2 separate regions of the Homo sapiens genome follow, and region 1 is linked to region 2. Evidence: fine-mapped expression QTL. A gene starts in region 2. The other region holds a variant in brackets. All regions are shown on one strand. Distances are from middle to middle.

The links. PIP is the estimated chance that this variant, and not a neighbour inherited with it, causes the effect.
Region 1: its variant is fine-mapped to the expression of CTNS in tibial artery (GTEx, PIP 0.92).

What each region holds. Positions count from the first base shown.
Region 1 is chr17:3,659,034-3,664,391 of GRCh38, forward strand. It overlaps CTNS (cystinosin, lysosomal cystine transporter), which reads left to right. Exons shown (of 12, transcript NM_004937.3): 11 at 825-942; 12 at 1,203-4,070. The coding sequence ends at 1,336. TAX1BP3 (Tax1 binding protein 3) reads right to left here. Exons shown (of 4, transcript NM_014604.4): 3 at 5,162-5,239; 4 at 3,862-4,852. The coding sequence ends at 4,715. P2RX5-TAX1BP3 (P2RX5-TAX1BP3 readthrough (NMD candidate)) reads right to left here. Exons shown (of 15, transcript NR_037928.1): 14 at 5,162-5,239; 15 at 3,860-4,852. Among named protein-coding and RNA genes, the nearest start is that of TAX1BP3, 6.9 kb to the right of the region's middle. The variant C/T (reference allele first, on the strand shown) is at 2,452.
Region 2 is chr17:3,634,361-3,639,718 of GRCh38, forward strand. CTNS (cystinosin, lysosomal cystine transporter) reads left to right here and starts at 2,400. Exons shown (of 12, transcript NM_004937.3): 1 at 2,400-2,471; 2 at 2,747-2,956. SHPK (sedoheptulokinase) reads right to left here and starts at 1,890. Exons shown (of 7, transcript NM_013276.4): 1 at 1,692-1,890. The coding sequence starts at 1,859. It overlaps LOC105371493 (a long non-coding RNA gene), which reads right to left. Exons shown (of 6, transcript XR_007065579.1): 6 at 4,137-4,725. RefSeq lists enhancers at 1-307, 2,146-2,395 and silencers at 1,606-1,665, 2,676-2,765.

The DNA.
Region 1 (5,358 bases), 25 kb after region 2:
ATTGGGGCCAAGAAACCGGGGATGGAGGAGCCCAGGTTGGAGACGTTTGGAACTGCTGGAGGGGCAGCAGCAAGTACGGAAGAGGGTGAGCCGGGACACAGACAGGGACTGACTAGAGGCTCACTGGGAGGCCACCAGAGAGGCCAGGACCTGCCTCACGGGGGGAAGGAAAGGTCACAGCAGTCAGAGGACCCACAGGGCTCTGCAGCATGGGAGGACGTGGGGCACAGGCAGTCAGACTGGGGCGCATCCCCGCAGACCCGCCCCCCCAACCAGACCCAGGAAGCCCCGGCCAGGCCTGTGGGGGGCGTTAACCCCGCTCTACAGACGGGGAAACCAAGGCTAGGAGAACTGTCACTTGCCCAAGACAGCAGGCTCCGGTGATGGAGCCAGGATTCCAAACCAGAAGTCCCACTCCCACCAGTCCCTAAGCACATGAAGTCCAGGCTGAGTTTGGGGACAGCCTTGCCTGGAGGTGAGAAGAAGAATCATAGCTACAGGGAAACTAGCACAGGGCCTTGGCCCCAGGGATGTGGAGGAGACGGGGAAGGCCGCATCGGCCCCGCCTCTGCTGGAGCTGTGAGGTGTGGGGGGTGCGGGGCCTTTGCTTGCTGTACATGCAGATGAGACGCCTACCCCCAGGACCACCCAAACTGTTCCTTGGCTGAGGCCTGTCATAGCCCAAAGGTCACCGTGTCCTTGGAGCCAAGGCCCCAGTGGGAGGAATGAGAACCGCTTTTGTTTGGAGGGGCAGTCACGAGGCGCATGAGGCAGCCGCCCAGCCCTCACCGCCCTCCGTCTGTCTGTCCGTCTGTCTGGCCCAGGCCTACATGAACTTTTACTACAAAAGCACTGAGGGCTGGAGCATTGGCAACGTGCTCCTGGACTTCACCGGGGGCAGCTTCAGCCTCCTGCAGATGTTCCTCCAGTCCTACAACAACGGTGAGTCAGCCAGCGGGCTGCTGGCCACCCTGCGGCTGGGGCATCGGGCGGGGCCAGCCTTCCCGGGACCTTCCAGCCAGGGCTCCACCCCCACCTGGGATCCAAGCCAATCCAGCCCCCAAGGAGAGACCCACCTAGGGGCCTTCGTAGCTGGAGGCTTTGTGGTTTTCTGGGACCCCCACCGCCCACCACCCCACAAGCTCCAGCTGCCTCAGGAGCTGCCAACCTAACACCAGCTTCTGTCCCCCGGCTGCTAACAGACCAGTGGACGCTGATCTTCGGAGACCCAACCAAGTTTGGACTCGGGGTCTTCTCCATCGTCTTCGACGTCGTCTTCTTCATCCAGCACTTCTGTTTGTACAGAAAGAGACCGGGGTATGACCAGCTGAACTAGCACCCAGGGACCCAGTGTACCCAGCCTCTGGCCTCGTGCCCTGCTGGGGAAGGCCTCACCCAGCGAAGGCCGGAGAAGCGGTTGGGCCCTGGCACACAGGGCTGGCTCAGTGTGCGGACAGAGGAGACCACTCTGCTCCTGGGGCCAGAGGCCATTCAATAGCCTGCCTTCGTCCGGGCCCCTCCTGGGCCTCCCCGGCCAGGCACGTGGCACCGTCGCCTTGACACCGCCATCTCTTTTCTTTAAGGCTTCAGGCAGCGCGCACAGGCTCTGGCAGCCGTCTCAGGCAGGACTGGGCACCAAGCTTGCAGCCGAAGGCCTTGCCCCAAACTACCAGCGTTTCTGCAAGCAGCTTGAAGGGCTGACCTTGCAGCCGGGTGAGCCAAGGGCACTTTGCTGCCACCGCTGCATTCCCAGAGATCAAGCAGCCCGGTGCCGTGGCCAGTGAACTCAGAGGTGCTGGTGGACGGGCTAGGACTTTGGGGTTAGGCCATGGGGCTCTTTCTCTGAAGGCCACTTTCCTGACGTACTCTCTGTACATAACTCAGCGTCCGTGACTGCAGTAACAGCCAGCCCTACCCAGAGTATTTCTGAGCCATGAGGGGCCCACCAGATTGGTTCTGAATTGGATTCATGCCCAGCGCATTAGCATAGTAACTCCTTTCAGATTTTTTGGAGGGACGTTTGGAAGTGGCTTACTCTCTTCTGCCCTCTCTCCTACCTCCACCTTCTCAGATTAGCCCCATCTGAGCACATCCAGCTGCTCCTTACCCAGCATCTGGAGTACAGGACATAGCTCTCTCCTGCTACCAGTCTGTGCCTTAGAGGTCTGTTAGGCCTGCCAAACGGCGACCAGCTCCCCTGGAGCGAGGGCAGGCCCCTTCCCTCTCTTTCCCCAGACACCTACTTGAGACTCACCAATTTCTGGCCTGTTCAGGAGCCTCAGATAAGTATTTGTACTTGAGACCACCTCACACAATCTGTATGGGCCCAACCCTGATCTCAAACCTCCTTCCCTCTGCCCAAAGCTGTCCTTCCTATGGCAGGAGGGGTGGGGGTCCCAGGACGTGCCTCATACATGACTTGAGCTTGTCAGTCCACTGAGTTTCCTTCTA[C/T]GAGATCAACGCGAGGGGCCTGTATCTTGAATTAAAACCTACTCGCTTCCTTTCTGCACTCTGTGTGCTCGATACAGAAGGCAGGTGTGCTGGCCTTCAGAGCCAGGTGCCCTGCTCCCCTCGTGTAAGGAAGCGCATAAGGTTGTGAAGGTCACTGACCCGAGAGCGCTGCGTGCTGACCCCACACTTCACTGGGGAGCCCTCTTGGGTAGCGCGAGACGCCTACCCGCCCAGGGCCAGGTCAGTCTCCCAGGCTCCGTGTCTTCACGGTTACCAGGGCACGCCACTCAATCTGGATGTGAGCCGGGGTGGATGAGGTTCTGAAGGGCACACCAGCACTGGGAGCGGGGGCAGTGGGGGTCTTATTCTCCAGACGCTTCCTCTATCTAGTTGTAACAAACGTCAAAGAATGTCAGGTCTTGTTTCTGCAGAGCAGACTTTGGCCTGACGGGGTCCACAGACCTGTTTCACTTGCAACACCCAGTAAATGTGTTACTGGGTGCCCTACTTTAAAAATCAGAGATTTCAAATGATTGACTTTTCCGGCTGAGTGCGGTGGCTCACGCCTGTAATCCCAGCACTTTGGGAGGCCAAGGCAGATGGATCACCTGACATCAGGAGTTCGAGACCAGCCTAGCCAACATTGCAAAACCCCATCTCTACTAAAGATACAAAAATTAGCTGGGCATGGTGGCGGGCACCTGTAATCCCAGCTACTTGGTTGGCTGAGGCAGGAGAATTACTTGAACCCAGGAGGCGGAGGTTGCAGTGAGCGAAGATCACGCCATTGCACTCCAGCCTGGGCAACAAGAACGAAACTCCATCTCAAAAAAAAAAAAAAATTATTGACTTTTCTTTAAAATCTGATTTGGCAGTGCTAGGTAGGTCCAGGAGTGCTAACACCTTCCCAGAGGTGGTACGCAGGTAGTCAGGTGCTCTCTGACTCACCCCCATCTGGCCAGATCACGGCCCCCAGCAACACGTGGGGTTGTGTCCCTCGCTGGGATACACGGAGTGCCCTTATAGGCAGGGAGTCTTATAGGCAGGGGTCTCTCCCAGGCACCTCTGGGTGTCCCTACGGCCCCTCCCAGGTGGGAGCTGAGGCTAGGTTGCAAAAAGGAGGTTGGGAGCAAGTAGGGGCTTCACAGTAACACCCAAGAAAGCACACGCACCCCAGGGTCCCACCCCAGTGCTCCCAGACACTCCCACAGATGTGGTTCTGGTCAGGCGCAGTGCAGCTGCTGCGGCTCCACCAGCCCCGGGCTTTCAGGCAGGTGGGCCTGGGAGTAGTTGAGCTTTGTCCCAGAACAGTGGGGGATGGGGCCATCATTAAAACCACAGCTCTGGCCCCAATATCCCACCGCCACCCCCACCCCGATATCCCAGCCCATGCCTCAGCAAAGCCCCCTGTGAATTCCAGCATTTTTATTGAGCGCACCACATCGGGGAGGGGCGGCAGTGGTTTCCACGGTAACCAAAGTAAGGCTTGTGCACTTGCTGAGCTTCCAGATGCGAATTAGTAAAAGCTAAATTCAAAAGTAGAATGGGCATCTCCAAAGAGTACGATAAAAACATTTTGTATCAAACTTGTGATTAAAAAAATACAAAAGTTAAACCCACAGGCAAAGAGGAAAATGACAATCCTGAGAGCTGCCCTGATAGGTGAGCCTCGAACCTCGTCTAAATCCGTAAGAAGGCAAACCCTGGGGAGGCCAGCACCCCTCGGGAGAGTGGGAGTGAACGCGGAGCCCACCTGGCTTCATCTGGGCAAAGCTTCGTAGCGCCTCTGGCAGGATGTGTGTCCAGTCCCCCGAGGGGCAGAGGCACTGCGGTGTGGACACACGAGGGCTGGGGGGCAGGGGCGGAGCCGAACCCTGCAGCCAGGCAAAAGCGGGAAAGGCCTGGTTCCTCCAGCATTTCCCAGCTTTTGGGGGCTCCCAAGAGATAGTGGTTCCCACTTGCCCAGCCACTGCTGTGGCCAAGCAGCAGGGTCGGACCTGAGCCTGTGGTCACAGCAGACTGGCTACTACTCAGCTCCAGGCCCTTATTTCCAATCCTCGGTGTCCAGGAGAGAAAGCCGGTCCCAGAGGCCCCAGGCCAGGGATGGGAGAAGGGAAGGAAGGCCAGGCCAGGCCTCTGGGACCAGCTATAGCCCTTCTGAGCTGGGGCCCAGCGGTCAGCAGAAGCCAGATGGGGACAGAGTGTGGAAGTGGCGTTACTGTACAGAGAGGCGGCAGGCAGGAGTCGCAGATGGTGGTGGCTGCTAGGACAGCATGGACTGCTGCACGGCCTTCTGCAGCGACTGCCGCGTCACCAGCAGACGCACCACCTCCTCCGAGCGCTTGGTGAGCCGCTTGCGGGCCTGGTCGTGTGTGACCATGGTCATGTCCCAGCCGTTCACCTGGCCCCAGGAGAGAACACAGGCTCACCTCAGCTCCCCGCCCTCTGGGATCTGGAAGCAGAGGGCTTTGGGGGCCCAGGTCATTCAAGTAGGCCCCCAGCCTAACATCCCAGGGCTGGGAGACACCAAGCACTGTGGCTGAGACACACAGGAGAGAAAGCCAGCGTCCTCTGGGGCAATGCCAGTATGGGTTCCCAATTGGCTGCAGTGAGTCTCTCCCAGCTGGGAGGCTGGGGCAGCTCCCCACCCCCAAGTGCTTCAGACCTGCTTGCCCAAACCTTGTTTCTCCTCCTTTGGGACACCTGTTACCTGCATGATCTTGTCTCCAATCTGCAGCCCAGCGATTTCAGCAGGGCCTCCTTCAGACACCCGTGTGACATAAATACCCTGGAAAGGGGCAGCCCAAGTCAAGCCCTGTGGTCACTGGACTGGCCCCTTATCACACAGCGGAAGCCAGCATGGCACATTCTCAGCCGTCCCTCTGTCCCTGCACCCAGCCTCTCCCA
Region 2 (5,358 bases):
GGAGTTTGAGACCAGCCTTGCCAACATGGTGAAACCCCATCTCTACCAAAAATACAAAAAAATTCTCCAAGCATGGTGGCGCACACCTGTAATCCCAGCTACTCGGGAAACTGAGGCACGAAAATCACTTGAACCCGGGAGGCAGAGGTTTCAGTGAGCAGAGATTGCACCACTGCACTCCAGCCTGGGTGACAGAGCGAGACCCTGTCTCAAAAAAAAAAAAAAAAAAAAAAGAAGTGCTCTATTTCAGGAGAAACTGGCACTTTCTGAGCCTACTCTCCCCTAATGCCAGCTCTCCTGCTCACCCCACCAGGGTCAGAGCCAACTTTGCCTCCAATTCATAGTCCTTTAAGTAAGAATCCTTTTAATATGCCCTAATGTCCCAACCAAACTAATCTTGAAAGCTTCTATGTAGATACAAAGTGCTCCTGAAATCCCTATCCTCAGAAATGCTTCTGAGCCAAATGGGCTCTGAACCCTAAACAACCGTGTCCATGTATGTGGCAAGAGCTTGTGAAAAACAAAGCTGGGCCAGGCGCAGTGACTCACAACTGTAATCCTAGCACTTTGGGAGGCTGAAGTGGGCAGATCACTTGAGGTCAGGAGTTCAAGACCAGTCTGGCGAACATGGCGAAACCCTGTCTCTACTAAAAATACAAAAAGTAGCCGGGCGCGGTGGCTCACACCTGTAGTCCCAGCTACTCGGGAGGCTGAAGCAGGAGAATCACTTGAATCCAGTTGGCGGAGGTTGCAGTGAGCCCAGATCACGCCACTGTACTCCAGCCTGGGCAACAGAGCGAGACTTGGTAAGAAAGAGAAAGAAAGGAAAGAATGAAGGAAGGAAGGAAGGAAGGAAGGAAGGAAGGAAGGAAGGAAGGAAGGAAGGGAAGGAAGGGAAGGAGTCTCGCTCTGTCACCCAGGCTGGAGTGCAACGGAGCGATCTCGACTCACTGCAAGCTCCGCCTCCCGGGTTCGCGCCATTCTCCTGCCTCAGCCTCCCGAGTAGCTGGGACTACAGGCGCCCGCCACCACGCCCCGCTAATTTTTTGTATTTTTAGTACAGACGGGGTTTCACCGTGTTAGCCAGGATGGTCTCGATCTCCTGACCTCGTGATCCGCCCGCCTCGGCCTCCCAAAGCGCTGGGATTACAGGCGTGAGCCACCGCGCCCGGCTGACCAAAGGTTTCTTGGTCCGCATTCTGCTTCTGTGGAATGAGCCAGGAGCCAGTTAGGCCTGATTTGACATCTGATTTCCGGAGGAAAACCCAGACTCTGCCCTGGGCAACAAACTGAATCCTGAACTTGAGGTCACAGGGCAGGTGTGAGGAGCGGAGAGCAGCAAGAGTGAAAGGGAGGCCTGTGGTCATTCCATACACACAAGAGATCAGTTCCTCCAAGGTCAGGGGACAGAGAGCACAGGGATCCAGCGCCAAGCGCAAGGCCCCCAGAAGAAGCCAGAGAGTCGGGGAGGGGGCGGGGGGGAATCGGTCCCAGCAGGTGGGAAGGATTCTGGGACCAGACCTAAGGGATCATGAGCACAGCTGCTGCAGGCAGACGGGCCCCTGGAGAAGCTGGGGACAAGCTGGAATAGAGACTTCATTGCGGGAAGGGCTGTCAGGGAGGCCTCCTGGGGTGGAAAAGGGTGGTCAGGAGGCTCCTGGAGGCGGCGCGGCCCCGGGGGTCCAACTCACCTGGGGCCCGGCCACCGCGCTCTCGACCGCCGCCTCTGCCCGCGCAGCACGGGCACAGCTCGCCAGCACTGCGAACCCGGATGGGTCGTCGGGCGCGGCCCTCAGCAGAGCTGCCTTCACAGATGTGGTGCCCAGGTCAATGCCGAGGGTGATCGGCCGCGCAGCCATTATCTCCCTGACCCGCGCAGCTCCAGTCTGCAGCCAGCGGCCCCACAAGTCCGCGCTCTTCGCCCAGGGGGGCGGGGCAGGGGCGGGGAGTCGCCTGCCAATCTTTCAGCCACACCCAACATGGAGGCTTCTCGTCTTCCCACTGGCCGGGGAAGGCGAGCTTCCACGCAACCTCTCGGCGGGCCCCGGCTATAGGCGGAGAGGCGGCGGAAGGCGGGACCTAAAGGGGGCCCCGCCCCACGGGCTCTGATTTCCGCCCAATGGAGGGCGGTCTGAGCTTCGCTCACGAAAGGAGCCGGGAGGCGCTGGCGGCTCCAAGAGTCTCTGTGTCCCTGGCAGCGGACCTCATCTTCCCTCACGCCGGAGCCCCGATCTCTGCGCCCCGGCCCGACCCAGCTGCGCTCTGTCCGTCTAAGACGCGCGGAAACTACAACTCCCAGAGCTCATCTCGCCGAGATCCGGCCCCACGAGTCAGGTGGCGGAGGTCAGGTGACAGCGGACCCGCCTCTCCCAAAGTCTAGCCGGGCAGGGGAACGCGGTGCATTCCTGACCGGCACCTGGCGAGGCTCATGCGTCCCGTGAGGGCGGTTCCTCGAGCCTGGGGGCGCTCAGGTGAGAGCGGACGCGGCCTCCCCTGTTTCCCAGGCGGACCCCTTGAGGCACAGCAGGTCAGCGGGGCAGCCTGCCGGGGGTCCAGCGCCCTCAGCCGCGGCGGGCTCCTTTCCCCGCCACCAGTGCTGGCCTCGCGACACGGGACAACCCCCGGGTGGAAGGGCCCGAGCGGTGGTCAGCCGAGGCAGGGGCAGCGGGCTGCCGGGGTGGGTGCCGTTCCCAGCCCCTTACCTTCTGCTCAGTTGCCGCCTGGGTCTCGGTTGGGGAATTTGCAGATTGCTTTGGAGACGCTGAGAGAACCTTTGCGAGAGCGCCGGTTGACGTGCGGAGTGCGGGGCTCCGGGGGACTGAGCAGCACGAGACCCCATCCTCCCCTCCGGGTTTTCACACTGGGCGAAGGGAGGACTCCTGAGCTCTGCCTCTTCCAGTAACATTGAGGATTACTGTGTTTTGTGAGAGCTCGCTAGGCGCCCTAAGCAACAGAGGTAACCACTTTATATCCTTGTTTCTCAACCTCGTTATTCCTACCTACCCCCTTCCCATAAAATTTAATACCACTAGTACGCTGTGTATTTGTTTCTGTGGCCACAAACCATTGTAATAGCTAGATTTCTTCACTACCACCCCAAGCCAATTTTTTTTTTTTTTTTGAGATGGAGTCTGCAGCCTCTGTCACCCAGGCTGGAGTGCAGTGGCGCGATCTCGGCTCACTGCAACCTCCGCCTCCGGGGTTCAAGCGATTCTCCTACCTCAGCCTTCCGAGTAGCTGGGACTACAGGCCTGAGCCACCATGCCCAGCTAATTTTTGTATTTTTAGTAGAGATGGGGATTCACCATGTTGGCCAGGCTGGTCTCGAACTCCTGACCTCAGGTGATGCGCTCACCTCGGCCTCCCAAAGTGCTGGGATGACAGGCGTGAGCCACCGCGCCCAGCCTACCCCCAGCCAATTTTAGTCCCACTTGACAATGCGTGCTTTACATCTCCTCATTTAAGTCCTGTGAGGTAGTTACCACCTCCTTGTTTGGCACCACAAGGTCGCATAAGTAATAAATAGGTCAAGCCTGTCTCCAGTGCACACAGCCCTTGCCACTATTTGTGTACCCTCTCCAAAAGCAGGAGACCCAGGGAGTTCCAGGTCGTAGAACAGAGGACAGGACCAACTCATACCTGGCAGACAGGAGCTGCCACACTAGACCCCTAGCCCCAGGTTGCTCCTGGGAAGGGACTGAATGGGTGAGGAGCCTTCTTGAAACATGTGACATCTGAATGAGGCCTGGACAATAGTTAGAACTTACATAGGAAGGGCACGCCAGACAGAGCCCATTGTCAGGAGATACTTCATTTCTATCTTGTAGCTTTCACAAGCCACTAGTTGTATGTAATTATCAATCTGGTTTTTTTTTTGTTTTTTTTTTTTAATTTGAGACGGAGTTTCACTCTTATCACTCAGGCTGGAGTGCAATGGTGCAATCTCGGCTCACTGCAACCTCCACCTCCCGGGTTCAAGCGATTCTCCTGCCTCAGCCTCCTGAGTAGCTGGGACTACAGGCACATGCCACCACGCCTGGCTAATTTTTGTATTTTTAGTAGAGACGGGGATTCACCATGTTGGCCAGGCTGGTCTCGAACTCCTGACTTCAAGTGATCCAACTGCCTCGGCCTCCCAAAGTGCTGGAATTACACACACGAGCCACTGCGCTCAGCCTAATCTGATGTTTTTTAACATTTTAATTGACTTACCTCTCAATGTCGTTTTGTCTCTGCTGGCATCGTTCCTCCAGGGGTCTCAGCCTTTGAGGCTTGGGAATGTTTGCTGACCAAGTCTGTGAGTTTGAGAAGCTGGTTAGGCCTGATTCTGCATCTAATTTCTGGAGAAAAACCAGACTCTGTCCTGGGCAACAAACTGAATCCTGAACTTGAGGCCACAGGGCAGGTGTGAGGAGCGGAGGGCAGCAAGAGTGAGAGGGAGGCCTGTGGTCATTCCATACACGCAGGAGGGCAATTCCTCCAAGGTCAGGGGACAGAGCACAGGGATCCAGCGCCAAGAGCAAGGCCCCCAGAGGAGGCCAGAGAGTAGGTACGGGGTCATTCCCGGCCGGTGAGAAGGGTCTCAGATGAGGCAGACCTGCAGCAGGCAAAGAGAGAACCCTGGAGGAGACGGGCCAACAGAGGTCAGACAGCTGGAGCAGCCAGGGAGACTTCTTGAGGAGTGTGTAAGGGAGATGTCCGGAGATGCTGGAGGCCTTGGGGAAACTGAAATCAGAGTGGGAACAGGGATGTCTCCACACAGACCTTACCCAGAGCTCCCCACAGTCTGCAGGAGGCCCGTGAGACTGTGTACTGAGGCAGCACGGAGACCAAGCTACAGAAATCCATGCCGGCCTGGCTGCTCTTGACCCACTGTTCACCTGCTGTGTCTTGGGTTTACAGGAATGCAGCTCCCCATCTTCCACACTAAACCAAGGACTTGCTCTGGGGCTCATCCCTCCCCGAGTCCTCCTTGTGAATGACCCCAGCCAGTCCTGGAATGGTGACACTTGTCAAATAAAGTCTTGACAGGCGCGGTGGCTCCTACCTGTAACCCCAGCACTTTGGGAGGCTGAGGCGGGCGGATCACTCGAGGTCAGGAGTTTGAGACCAGGCTGGCCAACATGGTGAAACCCCATCTCTACTAAAAATACAAAAGTTAGCCGGGCATGGTGGGGGGCACCTGTAATCCCAGCTACTCAGGAGGCTGAGGCACAAGAATTGCTTGAACCCAGGGGGTGGAGGTTTCAGTGAACAGAGTTCGCACCACTGCACTCCAGCCTGGGCAACAGAGCAAGACTCTGTCTCAAAAAAAAAAAAATTTAAATATGTATATTAAAAAAAAATGTTTTTTTAAGT